Linked DNA regions of Homo sapiens: region 2 is linked to region 1. The links come from fine-mapping of genetic effects on gene expression. Tissue or cell type: whole blood. Region 1 holds a variant in brackets; the other region holds the start of a gene. All regions are shown on one strand. Distances are from middle to middle.

Region 1 (9,239 bases):
GGACATGGGCCATCACTGCATGCCTGGGATGTGGCCCAGAGGCAGCACACAGCACAACCCTGTGGGGAGGTAACAGCTAGTGGAGCTGAAAGAGAAAGGGGCACTGGAGAAGCAGGAATCATTATACGAAAATTTAATTTCCAGCTGGAAGACATCTTGTGGAGACCATCTAGTTCAGCTTCTTCATTGTATAGCTGAGGACACCCAGGCCCAGAGAGGGGAAGTGATTTGGTCAAAGTCACACAGCAAGTAAAGGACAAAGCTGAGAGCAGATCCCAGGTTTGTGCATTCCCATAGCAGCTGCTTTCCACACACCCCACTGAGGGAAGACCATTTGGTCAAGTCAGAGCACGGGGGGTGGGGGGTTTTAAAAAGCAGAGCTGAGGAACTTAGGAATACACACTGCTTAGCACATGGTTATTAGCTGGTCCTTCAGATGCCCCAGGGTCTCAGCGTTCGAAGCTTGCTCATTCCACAGGATAATTTTGTGTTTGCTCAGGTGCCCAGAAAATGCCTTTTTAAGATTTCTGAGAATAAACCCATCACCTCCAACAGTCCCAGGAATTGCAACTGTCTATTCATAACGAATGAGAGGCAGGTGCATTAAATTCTGACCTAGTGCTCAAGAACTTTGGAGGGATAAAAAGAGGAAGCACACAGGTCCCTATTCTGGGAATGTGGGGCCTCCCTCACCTCCCCATAGGAGGGCTTGTCCACACCACCTCCTCTTTCCTCCTCTTCATCTCCCACCCTTTCCACCAAGACAGTGACCCCATTCCCCATGCTGGGTTCCAATCATTCCTGGAAGGATTTTTCCCAGAGCAGTTGCCAGCAAACATTTTACAGTCCTCTCCTCCTCTCTGTGATGTAACATTTCCCAACACCTTCTATATACTAGGCACATAACCTACATCATCTTACTCATTCCTCCAACAAGACAGTACAGTAGGCATTGTTAGCCAATGTGGGACAAAAGATTTCAGATATTTATTAACTTGTTCAAAACATACAGCCAGCTAGTAGATGGAATTTGGAATTTGAACCTAGGTCTAACCTGTTCTAAAGCTCATGTTCTTCCACTACTGTGAACCAGCACCCAGAAAACTTGAGTTTTAGTTTTGATTCTACCAGCTTTGTGACCTTAGAAAAATAACTTAATTTTAAGTTTCCTAAACTACAAAATGGAAACTGGCTGGGCATGGTGGCTAACTCTTGTAATCCCAGCACTTTGGGAAGCTGGGGCAGCCGGAGTTTGAGACCAGCCTGGCCAACATGGTGAAACCCCATCTCTACTAAAAATACAAAAAATTAGCCGGTTGTGGTGTGGGGGGCCTGTAATTCCGGCTACTTAGGAGGCTGAGGCAGGAGAATCGCTTGGACCTGGGAGGCGGAGGTTGCAGTGAGCCGAGATCGCGGCATTGCACTCCAGCCTGGGCAACAAGAGCAAAACTCCATCTCAAAAATTTTTTTTTTTTAATTTAAATAAATAAATAAATAAAATGGAAACGGTACACCAATATTGACAACCTTACTGAGTCATCAAGATTAAAAAGACAATATGGCTGGGCATGGTGGCTCATATCTGTAATCTCAGCACTTTGGAAGGCCGAGGTGGGAGGATCCGTGAAGGCCAGGAGTTCAAGACCAGCCTGGGCAACACAGGGAGACCCCTATCTCTACTAAAAAAAAATTAAAACATTGGCCGGGCATTGTGGTGTGTGCACCCGTAGTCCCAGCTACTCAAGTGGCTGAGACGACAGGGTAGCTTGGCCCCAGGAATTTAAGGCTGCAGTGAGCTATGACTGCACCACTGCACTCTAGCCTGAGTGACAGTAAAACCCTGTCTCAAAAATAAATTTAAAAAATACAATATATTAATATGTGAAAATGACACACAAATGTAAGACACCCCCATTAAAGCAAAAAAGGTTCTTTTTCCAATTAAAGGGGCTTGGCTATCAATAGCAATATTTAGTAGGTTATATATAACTATAGTTGACCCTTGAGCAACATGAGTTTGAACTGCATGGGTCCACTTATGCATGGATTTTCTTCTACCTGTGCCACCCCTGAGATGGCAAGAGCAACCCTCCTCTTCCTTCTCCTCAGCCTACTCAATGTGAAGACAATGAGGATGAAGACCTTTGTGATGGCCAGGCACAGTGGCTCATGCCTATAATCCCAGCACTTTGGGAGGCTGAGGCAGGAGGATGACCTGAATTCAGGAGTTTGAGACCAACCTGGCCAACATGGTGAAACCTCCGTCTCTACTACAAATACAAAAAATTAGCGGGGCATGGTCGTGGGCACCTGTAATCCCAGCTACTCAGGAGGCTGAGGCAGGAGAATTGCTTGAACCAGGGAGGAGGAGGTTGCAGTGAACTGAGATCACTCCACTGCATTCCAGCCTGGGCAACAGAGTGAGACTATGTCTCAAAAAAAAAAAAAAAAAAAAGAGAAAGACCTTCATGATGATCCACTTCCACTTAATAAATAGTAAATGCATTTTCTCGTACTTATGATATTCTTAATAACATTCTCCTTGCTTTAGCTTACTCTCCTGTTAGAACACAGTATATAATACATACAGCATACAAAATAGGTGTTAGTTGACTATGTTGTTAGTAAGGCTTCTGGTCAACAGTAGGCTATTAGTAGTTAAGTTTTTGGAGAATCAAAAGTTATACGCAGATTTTTTTTACTTCATGGGGTTCAGCAGCCCTAACTCCTGAGTCATTCAAGGGTCAACTGCAATTCATCTTATCCATTCATAGTATCTCTCTAATCTTACCCATGTCCCCAGCTTATTTTTTTTGCCATCTTTCACAGTGGCTTTTGATAGAAAATCTTTGTGCAGCCTTTTACTTTCATTTTTTTTTTTCTGGAGTGTTTGGACATTAGGTGTGTTTTTCCTCCTTAGTGTCTCACTAAAAAAAAGCCCCAAAATTGTGCGGTTAATTTTTTAAAGGGCAATTAGTCTTTTGAGGGGTAGGGCGCACTAGGTAAATCTCCCATCAAAGTGGATTTGTGCCAGCTGTGAAGTTTGCAAACATGTCTTTAATAGCCATGCAATTTCAGCATCTGTAATACTCAAGACCATTTCAATTCCAAGTTGCAGAATCAAAGTCAAATAACTTAAGAAAAAAGCTATTGGCTCGTGAGATGGAAAAGCCCCTGGGACAGGCAGCTAGGCATGGCACGATCCAGGTTCTCAACAATGCAGCAAATGCTCTGCCTGTCTTTATGTCTCTTGCTCAGCTGTTCTCTGTGTTGGCTTCATTCCCAGGCAAGCTTCTTCCATCTGGTGAAAAAGATGAACACCAGGCGTGTCTGATCTTCCCAGAGGAAGAAGGGAGCATCTTTTTGAACAGCATTTCTGTGAGAAATGGGATCCTAAGGTGGCCTCCAAGATTGACACGCCATGGTACAATCTTCGTGATCGTAAGAAGAACCTGTGAATACGATGAGCTATCACTCCTGTGCTTTTGCGGTTTTATGTGGCAAAGGGAGAGTGTTCTGGGTGGGCCTGACCTGATCAGGCATATCCTCTAAAATCAGAGTTTTCTCCAGCTGGTTCCAGAAGACTAAGTCAGAGAGATGCTCTGTGTTTGGGCCAGAAGCAAGCAAACATCCACATTGTGAACTGCCTATGGGGGCCACCTGGCAAGGAACTGCAGGTGTTTTCTGGGACCTGAGAGCATTCCCTGGCCAATCATTAGCAGGAAAACAGGAACTCACTCCTATAACTGAGAGGAAATAAAATTTACCAACAACCAATGAGCCTGGAAGAAGACCCTGAGCCTCAAATGAGAACTGCAGCCCCAGCCAACACTGATTTCAGCCTTGTAAGTACCTGAGCAGAGAACTCAGCCATGCTATATCAGGACTTCTGACCTACATTACTGTAAGATCATAAATGTGTTGTTTTAAGCCACTACATTTGTGATAGTTTGTTATGCAGCAATAGAAAGCTAATACAACTTCCAAAAATTCTACTGTGTAAGTCAGGATCCTTTGGTTGCAAGCAACAAAAATCAGCTCTGGATAGCTTAAGCAAAAAAGGAAATTGGCTGGAACAGTGTTCGTGTAGCCACAGAATATGAGCAACTTCTGGGATGGATCCAAGAAGGAGAAACAAACAAGGGTTATGTCCAGGTCTTGTTTCATTCTGTTAAGATTTAAAGTCCGGGGAGAAAGCAGCTGATTGACATTACCTGATAGCCTCATCAAGCGATTATAATCGGCCGGCACGGTGGCTCACGCCTGTAATCCCAGCACTTTGGGAGGCCAAGGC[A/C]GGCAGATCACCTGAAGTCAGGAGTTCGAGACCAGCCTGACCAATATGATGAAACCCCGTCTCTACTAAAAATATAAAAATTAGCTGGGAGTGGTGGCAGGCACCTGTAATCCCAGCTACTCAGGAGGCTGAGGCAGAGAATTGCTTGAACCTGGGAGGTGGAGATTGCAGTGAGCCGAGATTGCACCACTGCACTCCAGCCTGGGCGACAGAGAGAGATTCCATTAAAAAAAAAAAAAAAGAGATTATAATCGTGGAGAATAGTTGACTCTTCAAAGCAAAATTGATACTATTGCTAGAAGATGGGGGTCTTGATGCCAGGCCTACAAAAACATCCCTGCATTAATATGTTCTTCCCCTAATCAGTTACAATGGCGAGGAAGACAGAATACTCTAATGGAGCAGGTTTAGTCATGTGACCATCCCTGAGCGCAGACAGGCTAGGGGTTAGCTCCACTTGTACTGCATGGTCTGGCCAGGGTTAATATGGGGGTTGGGGGGAGGAAGGGATGCTGGGTGTAAATATAAGCATATAATGTCTATTATGGCATCCCGTTTACTGAGAATCAGAGCACTTCAGTTGCAGTCTGGACTCTGAAACTAGCTAATTCTATATCTTCAGTAAGTCATGTTACCTTTCTGGGTCTCAATTCTCTCATTTACTAAATAAAGGTTAGATTAATGATTTCCAGTCCCCATCTAACTGGGACAATGGTCTGTGACTCAGTATTTAACACAAAGGTATAAATAACTGATAAGGCTTTATATATCTCTCAAGGGCATTTGCTTCTGAATGGAAGAAAAGTGTTTAGTCAGTGGTGTGCTGGGGCATACAGAATGAACTTTCATGTATAATGTCTGCCCCCACCACAGCCAATTTCAAGTTACCAATGATTTAACAACCAACTGGGAAAATTCCTGAAAATTTAACAGTTGGCTCTCATGTGCTGATATCAGCCAGCTCCCACACACCATTATTATAATTTTAGCCAAAAGAGTGACTCTCTAAGCATGTATTTTTGGGTGGATATTAGTAGGTGAGTGGAGAGGGTGTGTTTTAGGGATCAGAAATCCACTGAAATTACATTCTATATGCAGTCATATCCTGGGCCACACTCAAAGTCAGCCAAATTCAGCTCAGATAAAGACTGGTGCTGGGCGTGGTGGCTCACACCTGTAATCCCAGCGCTTTGGAAGGCTGAGGCAGGTCGATCACTGGAGCTCAAGAGTTCAAGACCAGCCCAGGCAACATGGTGAAACCATGTCTTTACAAAAAATACAGCAGAAAAAGTTAGCTGGGTGTTGCAGTACACACCTGTGATCCTAGCTACTCAGGAAGCTGAGGTGGAAGGATCGTTTGAGCCCAGGAGGTCGAGGCTGCAGTGAGCTGTGATCATGCCACTGCACTCCAGCCTGGGGTGACAGAGTAAGACCCTGTCTCAAAAAAAAAAAAAAAAAAAAAAAAAAAAAGGACCAGCAGTTACTGATATGTCAGTTTCCTCAGCCTCTACTCCCAGCCGGTGGGGGCTCCTTTAGGCTCTTTAGGCTCTGCCCTCTCCTCCAGCTTTGGTCAGACATGAAAGAGTCATGGAGCCCAAGGAGTCCATCAGAGCCATAAGATGTGGATCTGTGTGCAGGTGGTGGTGGGAGGGGGCCATGCTTGGCCCAAATGTAGCATCTTAGAAGGCAGATTCTACCTGGGATTGTCACTAAAGGGATGCTTGGCCCTTTCTGCAAACCCATTCCCCTCATTCCCCTCTCGATAACAGTAGTTGGGGTCATGCCCCCTCATTCCTTCAGTAAATTTTAACGGAGCACCTTTTATGTTCCAGGCACTGCATTCAGTTCTGGCCATTCAAATTGCCTAAGACATGGTCTCTAACCCCGGGGACTGAACTTCCCAGAGAGCATTTAAATTTTGTTTCCTGCTGCTCTCTACCCCATCTGGTTTTCGGGTCAGGAATGGTCTGGTCTCTCTCTCTCTCTCTTTCTTTCTCTCTCTCTCTCTCTCAAATTAAATACCAACTATGTACTGGACACTAAAGATTACAAAATGAATAAAACTCCGTCCATGCTCTTGAAGAGCTTGGATTATCATTGTGTGAACATCTGTGTAAACAAATAACCAAGGCAAAAAGTGACAAGTGTTTTTTAACACAGCACTAAACAATATGCGATGGACATAGCTAATAGGTTTAGTAGGTGTGAGCCAGGCTTCACAGTGAAGGGATATTTACACCTTGTCCGAGACCAAGCTCCTGGGTTGGGGAAAGGAGAGAAGGGCCTTCAGGCAAAAGGATTCCTGTGAGCCAAGGCTTGCGGTCACAAAAGGAGGGGCTCATACACAGGCTATGACTGGGGAAACCTCGGGTTGAGGCTGAAGAGACAAGGCTCCACCGAGGTGTTTGGCTGGGATCCTGCCAGCAGAAATGCACTTTGTGAGGGAATAGCCTGTGTGGGCCTCCAGCTGCTTGCCAGCCCTGGACCAGTCAGCTGAAGGGAGGCACAGGGCCTGGGTCAACATGCTGGGGTCTCAAGGGCTAGGGAAGTGCTTCCCCTCACAGGGGTCTTGGGAGAGGCTGTCTCTGGACACCCCAAGGGACAGAGACCAATCCTCTTTTTTGTGCTGTTTTCTCTGATGATCAGGAGCCAGGGAATTGCGAGGCTCAGTGCCGAGTCCCTGTTGCCTAGAAGGAGCTGTTGTAGAGAAAGAACCCCAGGGAAATCTGAATCCTGGGAGGGCCCCTTGGGAGCAAGTGGTTGTGGGAAGAGACCCAGCTCACCTGAAGCACGTTGGCGCCTCAGAACAACCTCTCCTCTAGGTGCAGACAAAGCTTTCCCACTAAATTCTGATGAATCGACCCAAAGAGCAAAAAGGGGTATTTATTGGCTCCTGTGACTGACAAGGGGGCAAAATGGGAACCATCCTTCTCTTCCTGTCTCTGGGCTCTGCTTCCCTCTTGTTGGCCTCATCCCGTCAGGCTCTCTCCCGGTGGGAAATAGACGGCCTCCACTGCTGCAGGCTGCACTACCCCACGGTCACCATTCTCTACGGGAAAATGGTGCCCCTTTCCCTGGAGTTCCAGCAAGAATCTTGAAAATGGCTCTCATGGGCCCTCCCTGAGCCGGTCTTTGTAGACAGAAGGATATGATGCCTGATTGGCTGTCACAGGGTCCATGCCCACACCGGGAGCCAGCCAGCGGCATACATCCCACTCCGTTGAGGGAATATGCGCTCCCCTCCAAGGGAAACGAGGTTGCTTCCAAAAAAGGGAGGGGAAAGATGCTGGACAAGTTAAAATAATTACTTCACCAGCATTACTTATTTGGAGAATTATGAGAATTTATTTAGCACCAGCATCTTCCTCTTACCACATGGCTGCTTATATTCTGCTTGGCCCTACACTTTAAATTGTTCCTGCTTGTAGCTGTAGCCATTTGGCTTCCATCAGTTCAGTCCCAGTCCTGAGCCCCAGTCCCTTCCCCCATACCTTGTCTTTACATTTTCTTTACGCTACCCAATTTTCCAGTCAGCCCCTCAATGGCAGGGGCCCTTCTCTGTAATGACAATGACAACTTTTCCAGCTAAAATCTCCATTCACCAGCTTCTGGGTTTCCCTTACTGTGCTCTTCCTGAGAGGAAGTTGGGGCATCCTCCTACATAGTATTGGACTTCCTGCCATCCTGAATGTTACCAGCCACCCTCCTACTCATTCATCCATCTAGCCACTCACTCACTGAGTCGCCCAACCATCCATCCATCCAACCATGCATGCATGCATCTATCCATCTATCCATCTACCCACCCACCAAAATATATCAGGAAGCAGGGATTCAATCATGAGGAAGAGCCAGAGCTTCCACCATGAGAAACTCACAGCTGCAGGTCATCATGTTCTATCCAGCTTCCTCTCAGCTCCAGCTCTGGGCCTTGCCTGTGTGCCCCTCTGCAAAGCGTGAGCCTCGTTCTAGTTGCCAACCCCATCCCACTGCACACACCAGGGCAAGGCTGGCTGTCGTGGACAGTCATTGTTCTATATATGCCCAGAATCCTTTCCCCTCATTTCTTCTATTACGAATGATTCTGCTAAGGCTGTAAACCAGAGTTTTCCAGCTCCAATCTCGTCTTGACCCCCTGGAAGCACTGGTTTATCCAAAAAGTGGGCATATGGCCCAAGGTGGGCCAATTAGGGCAATTCCTGAGATTGATATGGGGATATTGAGTATTTTGTTATCATTTGGTATGTCACAATCCTCCCAAACTCAGTGGCTTAGAACGACAACCGTTTTAGTTCATGATTCTGTCGGCCAGCAACTTAGGCTGGACTCAGGCAGTGCTTTGTCCGGTCTCATCTGGTGTCACCCACGTGGCTGCAGTCCTCTGTTGGTTCAGCTGGGTCTGGATGATGTAAGAGAGCCTTACTTGTCTGGAAGTCAGCGCTGGCTGTCAGCTGTGCCACGTGTCTCCAGCGGGTTAATACAGGCTTCTTAGTGTGGAGACTGGATTCCCAAAGCGATAAGAAATATGGCAAGTTCCAATGTGCAAATGCTATATAAGTCTTTGAGTTTTTTAAGATGAGAGAAATAACATGCTTGTATACAGATAGGAATGATCCAATTTAGAGGAAAATACTGACATGCAGGAGAGAAAAAAGAGAATATCTGGGGCAATTTCCTTGGGAAGCAAAGGAAGACGGAACCCAGTGGAGAAGCTGATAGCAATCTGATATGTATTCATTGTAATTTTAATTTCGATTTTTTCCTACTATGAGTGATTTTGGTAATCTTTCATTCATTTGACAGCTATGTGTTACTTTTTTTTCCCATGAACTCTCTGTTCAAGTCCTTTTCTCATTTTTTTAACGTTGTTTTAGACTCCCGTCAGCTTGAACATTTCACGAGGGCAAGGATTTTGTCTATTTAACTCCCAGTTATATCTTCAGTG
Region 2 (9,238 bases), 25 kb before region 1:
TGGGGTGGGCTATGAAAGTACTTCCTCAATAGCTGCCTGGGGACTTTCAAGACATTTTATAAAGTTATTTTTTTCAAGAGGCTTTTTTTTTTTCCTGCAGAGGCCACAGTGAAAAGTGTGAAAAATCTATAGAGAAATTAAATGAAGCAATCTACAGATTTTTAGAGTAGAAAGTGGGAACAGAAATAGTGGGAAAAGGCCTGGTATGGTGGCTCACACCTGTAATCCCAGCAGTTCAGGAGGCCGAGACGGGCGGATCACCTGAGTTCGAGTTCGAGACCAGCCTGGCCAATATAGTGAAACCCCATCTCTACTGAAAATACAAAAATCAGCTGGGCGTGGTGGCATGCCTGTAATCCCAGCTACTTGGGAGGCTGAGGCAGGAGAATCACTTGAACCCAGGAGGTGGAGGTTGCAGTGAGCCAAGATTGCACCACTGCACTCCAGCCTGGGTGACAAAGCAAGGCTCCGTCTCAAAAAAAAAAAAAAGAAATAGTGAGAAAAAAGCTAACAATTACTAACACATAGCTAACAACTACTGAGCATCTATTCTGTTCCAGGCACTATAATGGATATTTTAAATGCATTCTCTCATTTAATCCCCATAAAAATCCAGTGAAGGAGGAGCTATGATTTTAATGACAGGGAAATTGTGGTTCAGTATCATCCTATGTAAGCTCATGCTTAAGTGGCTAACTCCAGAGCTAACTCTCTTCACTGTTTCACTAGCTATCTACTATTTGAAGCATGCATACCACAAAAGAGAAGTTTTCTATTCTTTAAAGACTAAAGCCTGAGCTATGGCAGACAGCCTGAGAACCCTCTGCCCTTGGTGTGACTGTTCTGATACAATTCTTTTGTCAATAACATGTAATGGGTACCTGCTAGATGCCTGGATCTGTGCTCGGTGCTGGGAGACGGAAAGGACAAAGCCACTGCTTCTAACCTAGAAGGAACCGGTGGTGACCTAGACAAATAAGCAAGGGCAACACCATGTAAAAGAAGGAGTTTGCAGGGTGGGTTCTTCATAAGGATCAAACCTAGACATAAGGAAAAGATAACTATTCCACAGTGGGCCTGTGGGGATGGGGACCAGTGTAGGTTGTTCACATAAAAACATAAAGTCAGGATGAGAAGCAGCAGGATCTGGGATGATTATTTCAGCCACTCCTGGCTAAGGGCTTCCCCTAATATCCCAATGAGGAGGATTTGCTAAACAAAAGCTGGAGCGCCTGGTTGTTAGCTTATGCTGATTTACTCATCCTCACTTTTTAATCATTTTATACAGCTCTATGTGCAAAGAATTTTGCCAGATATTATTCACTGTCAGGTAGTCTTTCAATAAATATTTATGTAGTGCCCACTCTGAGCATTGGGAATACGAAGGCGGACAGGATAGACAACATTCCTGCTCTCCCGGAGCTCGCGTTCTACCAGTGGAGACAATAAACACGTAGCTAAAAAAATAAATACTGTTATTATAGTATTTATTTTTGTTGTGATGAATTAATGATTGCTATGAAAGAAATAGAGTTGGCTGAGGGAGAGTAACTGGGGAAGGCCTCTCGGAAAGAGTGCTCTAGGAGTCACTGCTGAGGAGTGACATCTAAGTGGAGGTCCCAATGGGAGTGAGGTAGCCATGCCAGCAGCTGAGGGAAGAGCATTTTGAGCATAGGGAACAGCAAACACAAAGATAGATACTGAGGTGGCGTGCTTAAAGCCAGAGGGTTTGTAGACCTCATTCTCCTGCTCTGATGCCTGAGACCAAGCTCTAGGCACCTGTTTTGTAATGGAGCTGTAATAGGGTCTATTGCTATTTTGTATGCCAGCAATAAATGATGTAGCAATAAATAAATTTTTTTCATCTTTTTGCAAAAAAATTCACATTGTGAAACTTACAAAAGGCTCATACTTTGCATGTTAATAGAAAAATAAGGCCAGGCACAGTGGCTCATGCCTATAATCCCAGCACTTTGGGAGAATGAGGTGGGAGGACCAATTGAGGCCAGAAGTTCAAGACCAGCCTGGGCAGCATATGAGACCCCATCTCTACAAAAAATTAAAAATTAGCCAGGTGTGGTGGCATACACCTTTAGTCCCAGCTACATGGGAGTCTGAGGTGGGAGGATCACTTGAGGGAGGATCACTTGAGCCCAGGATTTTGAGGCTCACAGCTCGTGAGCCACCACTGCAGTGTAGCCTGGATGACAGAGCAAGACCTTGTTTCAAAAAAAAAAAAAGAGAAAAAGAAAAACAAACAACCACAAAGAAAAAGAAGATATAGGGCTGGAAGAGGCATCAGATATTAATATCATCTAATCCAACTCCTCATTTTAGATGAGAAAATTGAGGCCCAAAGGTAAGATAAAATCCCATGGTCACATGGCACGATAGTGGCAGACCTGAGATTAGAACTCCAAATGTGAGAGTATTCTTTCCTTAACAGGTAAGGGATGAAATGTTTATAACCGGCAGGTACTCAAACTATTTGTATTAATCATTTGTTTTTAAAATGATGAACCCAATTTTCCTCCTTTTGAATTTCTCCCACTTAGTTTTCCATCTATTTTGAAGTTCTTCCAAATTCAGTTGTTATAAAGCAAACCAACTTTGATTAAGGATCCTTCTTACCCCAATGTCGAAATCAGGGTGTGTGACATCATTTGGCCACCAGAGGGCACTGAAGTCTCCTGTTCAGAGTAGATGATCTTGCTTCTTCTGATACACAATTCCTACTGTGTAGCCTGAGAAGTTGGCTGAATATTAGGAGGCTGGTTTTGAGAAGGGAAGTAGCGGTGGGACTTTGGCTCACACACCTGTTGCCCACGGCTGCTCACATGACTGGCCAACAGCAGCTGAGTGAAATTACCTCACCTCTGTTACACAACTCAGCCTCACAGGGCCAGGTGTCTGCCAGAGCCAGCTTTACAAGATGACAAACTCTTGCACTAACACCACCATACAGTCTTTATAACAACAATTACAGTGGAAATTTGAGGCCAGGCCAAAAAGATTAAGACTTGCTCCAAAAAGACGTGACCAAAGCTTAAAGTCATAAAGAATGGAGGCCAGGTGCTATGAGCTTATTGACCAGTTTCCAGAATAGCAGAATCAGGAGCACCCGTGAGAGAATGAGACAGGCCATCTTAGAAGAAGCAAAAGGAATGTCCCTTACATGGAGCAGGGAAGGGCAGCGGGGGCAATAAATTCATGAAACCGCCGACCCCAAGCTTAATGTCTTAACAGGTCCTGAACTGGTAAGTTCAAATTTGTACATGGGATATTGATAGTAGACTAACAATCCCTTTGTGCGTCTATATGAGGGACTCCTGGGCCAGTAGTTTAAAAGGTCTTGACGGGCAATAACAAATGTTGGTGAGGATGTGGGGAAAAGGAAACCCTTGTACACTGTTGGTGGGAATGTAAATTAGAATAACCGCTTTGGAAAAAAATTTGGAGTTCCTCAAAAAATTAAAAATAGAGGTACCATATGATCCAGCAATCCCACAGCTAGGTATATCCCTAAAAGAAAGAAAATCAGTATATTGAGAGATGTCTGCACTCCTGTGTTTACTGCAGCACTATTCACAACAGCTAAGATTTGGAAGCAACCTAAGTGTCCATCATCAGATGAATGGATAAAGAAAATGTGGTATATATACACAATGGAGTACTATTCAGCCATAAAAAATGAATGGGATCCTGTCTGTCTTTGCAACAACATAGTTGGAACTGGAGGTTATTACGTGAAGTGAAATAAGCCAGGCACAGAAAGACAAACTTCACACATCCTCACTTATTTGTGGGAGCCTAAATGGAAACAATTGAACTCATGGAGACAGAGAGTAGAGGGATGGTTACCAGAGGCCAGGAAGGGTAGTGGGGGGACTTGCAGGGGAGGAGTGGGGATGGTTAATGGGTACAAAAAATAGTTAGAATAAGACCTAGTATTTCATAGCACAACAGGGTGACTATAGCCAATAATAATTTAAGTGTACATTTAAAATAACTAAAAGTATAATTGGATTGTTTGTAACACAAAGGATAAATGCTTGAGGCAATGGATACCCCATTTACCCTGATATGACTATTATGCATTGTATGCCTGTAGCAAAATATCTCATGTACCCCATAAATGTATACACCTACTATGTACCCACAAAAATTAAAAATTTTAAAATAAGTAAATAAAAAGTTTTTTAAAGGTCTTGAACTTTCGGGCTTCTGCCTAACTTTACTACTAGTGTAAGTGGGCCCCTTGAGATTTCAGCACCCCAGCATTTGTTAGTGACTGAAATAATGAAAATTCTGATCAGGCCCTTGCTTGCACATGTTGACAACTCTCTTTTTGCCCAATATCCCTTGTTCCTACAACATAATCATAAACTGCTGATGTACTGTTTCTTTATCAAGCAGGAGGAGATAATAACTTCAGGGTTACGAAAAAGTTTGCAGGAGGAATAAGTCCTTTGAAGTACTTTGAGGCCAGCTTCTGTCGCCCAGAAGTCTGATTGTTCAAGGAATTATCTGAGACTGAAGAAACACAGACTTTTTCCCTCGATTCCCTGAAACTCCCCCTCCCTGACTCGCTGGCCGCATAAACACTCTCTGCTTCTTCTTTTTGTTAGGGCGGATTTGAGAGATCTTGCCCTCCCGCCTTCTCGCTTTGGCCAAATCGAATAAACTTTTATCTCCAAGCACCTATATGTCAGTGTTTGGCATCAGCTACACATGGGGTACACGAGCCTGAGTCTGGGCTTCTACAACGCTGGGACCCTCGCTGTTCTTTGGAGCTGATGGTAAATTCAACAGAAAAGAGGCGCATGGGTAGAAAATGCAGCATTTCCTCTCAGATGCCAGATATTCATCTCCAAAGGTATTAAAAGGAGGGGGTGTGTGCCTGTGTAAAGAGGCTGGTCTTTTCCTAGCAGTACGATTTGGGCAAGTTGCTTGATTTCTTCAAGCCTTTCTTTTTCCGCCTGTCAAACAAAACAAAACAAATATCCCGTTTAGGACAAATTCACAATCCTTAAAGAGGGCAGGCAGAGCGATTGGAATGCAGATGAACCAATCCCTTCTCCTGCAGGTTGCGGAGCTGCAGAGGGACCCCGCCCCCTGCATTGTGCTTAGCTCTGATTGGCGCCTCGCGGAGGGGGCGGGGCCTGGGCGCGCCGAGCTCCGGCTGGGTCCCTGCAGGTCTTGGGGCCCGGGACTCTTCCTGGAGACACCGCCATGGCCGGGCTATCCCGCGGGTCCGCGCGCGCACTGCTCGCCGCCCTGCTGGCGTCGACGCTGTTGGCGCTGCTCGTGTCGCCCGCGCGGGGTCGCGGCGGCCGGGACCACGGGGACTGGGACGAGGCCTCCCGGCTGCCGCCGCTACCACCCCGCGAGGACGCGGCGCGCGTGGCCCGCTTCGTGACGCACGTCTCCGACTGGGGCGCTCTGGCCACCATCTCCACGCTGGAGGCGGTGCGCGGCCGGCCCTTCGCCGACGTCCTCTCGCTCAGCGACGGGCCCCCGGGCGCGGGCAGCGGCGTGCCCTATTTCTACCTGAGCCCGCTGCAGCTCTCCGTGAGCAACCTGCAGGTGAGCTGGGGCCCGCGGCTTCCCCAGGCGGGCTGTGGGCGGGGCGGCCACAGAGCGAGCCTTCACTCTCCCCAGAATTCTTCCCGGGAAGTGGAGCGTGGCTCGAACGGCTGTTGCTTCTCTGCCGCGCAGGCAGGTAGGTGGGCGTTGCAGCGTCCCAGATGTTGGGCAGCTGGGTACCAGGAATTTCCCACAAGCCTCCGCCACTGGGCCACGCACCTGGGGTAAATTCTCTGCCAGCAGCCCGAGGACTTCTCATCCGTGAGTGGTTCTCAGTCGTCTTGGGGCCCAGTGTCTCTATTAACTGTGCTCCTATTCTCTTTTTTTTTTTTTTTCCCTTTGAGACAGAATCTCACTTTGTGGCCCAGGCTGGAGTGCAGTGGCGCTATCTCAGCTTACTGCAACCTCTGCCTCCCAGGTTCAAGCGATTCTCGTGCCTCAGCCTACCGAGTAGCTGGGATTACAGGTGCGTGCCACCACACCCGGCTAATTTTTGTATTTTTAGTAGAGGCGGGGTTTCACCATGTTGGCCAGGCTGGTCTCAAACTCCTGACCTCACGTGATCCACCCATCTCAGCCTCCCAAAGTGCTGGGATTACAGGCGTGAACCACCGCGCCCTGCCTGGGCTCCTATTCTTAAAGGTTTTACAGGGCATAGAGATTGTTAGGTACTTAAGCACTTTAATATGTGACTTCAGGGTTTCTCACTCTCTTACCCTTCCTGAATTAAGCTTTTCCCTCCTGCAGCAAGACGCTAACGTACAATATCATGGACGATTACAATGATTACTGCAGTCTTTAGGCCTCCACAGGCATAGTGGCTCCTCAGTAAGATGCAGAGCTGATTGAAGGTGTATCTCTTCCTCGCCCTTTGCCCACCTTCTGGTGCAGGGCCACACTTACAACTCTGATGGATCTCTGCTGTCTCAGGGATGGGGTCACAGACACCCAGCTTGGGAGGCCGGAGACACACAGAGTCCAGGAATGGAGCCTGATTTGATGGAGGGTCTTTTTGACAAAGCTCTCACATTTGAGTTCAACTCTGAAAGTACAACATTGTTGATAAAGACAGGATGCAAGAAACTGATGCTTGATTAATCACTTTTCCATTTGCCTTCCATTCGTTGTCTCTTCTATTAATTCTTTGAAGTAGGTATTATATACCCCATTCTGCAGATGAAGAACTTGAGGCCTACCTAGGTTAAGTAACTTGTTTAAAGCCAGCGGGCAAACCCCTAGTTTCATCTCAGGTTCATCTTTCTTCAAACCACCTATCACAGGCTGGTGGCCCATCAGCTGAATATGTCCCACAGACCGGTTTGGCCTACACAAAGTTCTGTTTTGTTTTTAATAAATTTGAATTTGTTACCAACATTTTAAAATTTAGATTTTACTTTAAAATGTAAATCTCTAACTTTTCTTGAAAAATGGGAAGATCCAGTGACACTGTGGGCCTGCACTCTTTGAGCAAAAACAGAAGCAGTGCCCTCTTTTAGCTAAGGCAGATACACCCCAGTTCACCATTTTCTTATTCCCAGCCCATTCCACACCTTTAGGCGTTTGCTCAAAACAAACTCACTCCACTCCATCAGTGGTGCTCAACTTTGACTGCAAATCATAGTCACCTAAGAAGGCTTTAAAAATGGGATGCCAAGGTATTTTATTGAAAGCACATTTTATTTTAAGACAACACCCCTTCCCGCCTCCCCACAAACCACTCCCTGATGATTCTAATGGGGGAGGAGGGAGATTGACCAATACATAATCATATTTAAATTTGTGAGGTGACTAGGGAGTTGCTGGTATTATTGTCCCCATTTAGGAAGTGAGGAAACACAGACTCAGAGGTGCAGGGACTTACCCTGTGACCAGTCAGCTAATGGCTGTCAGGTAGGACATTAGCCCAGGTCTTTCATGTTTCTAGAAATAGACAGGGCAGTGGCAAGGAACCTACCCAGGGCTTTAGGTTTCCATGATGGCAGTGAAAAGAAGTGGCCACATTAGAATTTGTCTGACTTGATTCCATCAATTAGCAGGTCAAAGTTTCTGCTTTTTTCTTTTCCTCCTCCTGACCTCCAGGGTGCTCTGCATTTCTTCTCATTGACAGGGGGTGAAATCGTTCAGAAGGAACAAAAAGACCTAGGTTTGGGACCATTTCTCATGTGTAAAATACCTGTCCTCTGTAACTTAGAGATATGTTGTGAGCTTCAAACGTACTTACCACTGGGCTGTTTCTTTTGTATGTCTCTTTCTTTGTGGCATTTTTGTATAGTAAATGTCTGTAGGACAGTGTTGCTGATGTTAGCTTATAGTGGGACCGTGTTTGGCTGCAGAGCCAGTGAGTCTGAAGGGAAATCTTGGGGTTTGATTATTTGCACCAAGACCTCTTACTATTAGCCTCCCTTCCATTTTGGCATTCTTTTCTTGTGATGTGCCCCTTTCTGTTCTGGTCACTCTTGGTTTTTTTTCTCTGACCCACTAAAATAAGTATCCCTCAAAGTCAGTTTCCTACTCTTTTGTTCCCTGCAGCGATCCTCAGAAGATTGTATACACTCTCGTTGTATACATTCTCTTCTAGTCCTTACTAGGACTCACTTCCAGATGTGTGTCCATTTCTGACCTCTTCAAAGTTCTCTATATTTCTGCTTGCTGTTCATTTTTGCTTCGTTACTTTGCCACCACTTCAAATTCAACATGTTTAAATCCAGTCCTTCTTCCTCCTGAAACAAGCTGCTTTTGATCTTCTGCATTTCTGTTAGTGGAATTATTGTTTTCTCAGTAAACCCAGTTGGTTCTCACTGCCTCCCCAAATCCCTCAGTTCCCAAGTCCTGACAGTTTTTTGTTGCCTTCTTTACCTCTGTCCTTGCCCCTTCCTCTTCATTCCTGCCACCTCATCCTTAAGCTTATCATCTCATGCCTAAAAGTACTAGAACAGCTCTTACATAGTCTTCCTGTCTGCCCCATCCACCTTGCCTACCCAAATAGATTAACAAAAATACCTGTCACAGCATTGCCCTCTGGCCAGAAACCTTTAACAATACCCAGCTGCCTATAGCTGCGTAAGAGCTACCTGGGATGTTTGTTTAAAATGCATATAGAGGCGGGTGCGGAGGCTCCAGCCTGTAATCCCAGCACTTTGGGAGGTCGAGGTGAGCGGATCACCTGAGGTCAGGAGTTTGAGACCAGCCTGGCCAATATGGTGAAACCCACCTCTACTAAAAATACAAAAATTAACTGGGTATGGTGGTGTACGACCGTAGTCCCAGCTATTTGGGAGGCTGAGTTGAGAGCATCAGTTGAGCCTGGGAGGCAGAGGTTGCAGTGAGCTGAGATCACGCCATTGCACTCCAGCCTGGGTGACAGAGCTTGATTCTGTTTCTAAATAATAAAATGCAGATAGAGGACAGCTTGGTGGCTCATGCCTGTAATCCCAACACTTTGGAAGGCCGAGGTGGGAGGATCACTTGAGTCTAGGATTTTGAGACCAGCCAGGGCAACACAGTGAAACTCCATGTCTACAAAAAATAAAAAAATATTAGCCGGGTGTGGTGATGCACATCTATAGTTCCAGCTACTCAGGAGGATGAGATGGGAGGATCACATGAGCCCTGGAGGTTGAGGCCACAATGAGCCATGATTGTGCCACTGCAC

Evidence for each region. PIP is the estimated chance that this variant, and not a neighbour inherited with it, causes the effect.
Region 2: it holds the start of CREG1, and the variant in region 1 is fine-mapped to the expression of CREG1 in whole blood (INTERVAL, PIP 0.97).

The regions. Positions count from the first base shown.
Region 1 is chr1:167,524,303-167,533,541 of GRCh38, reverse strand. It overlaps LOC107985224 (a long non-coding RNA gene), which reads left to right. Exons shown (of 2, transcript XR_001738279.2): 1 at 1-279; 2 at 3,287-4,003. It also overlaps the pseudogene AKR1D1P1. Among named protein-coding and RNA genes, the nearest start is that of CD247, 10 kb to the right of the region's middle. The variant A/C (reference allele first, on the strand shown) is at 4,295.
Region 2 is chr1:167,549,736-167,558,973 of GRCh38, reverse strand. CREG1 (cellular repressor of E1A stimulated genes 1) reads left to right here and starts at 5,212. Exons shown (of 4, transcript NM_003851.3): 1 at 5,212-5,586. The coding sequence starts at 5,233. RefSeq lists a silencer at 5,074-5,523.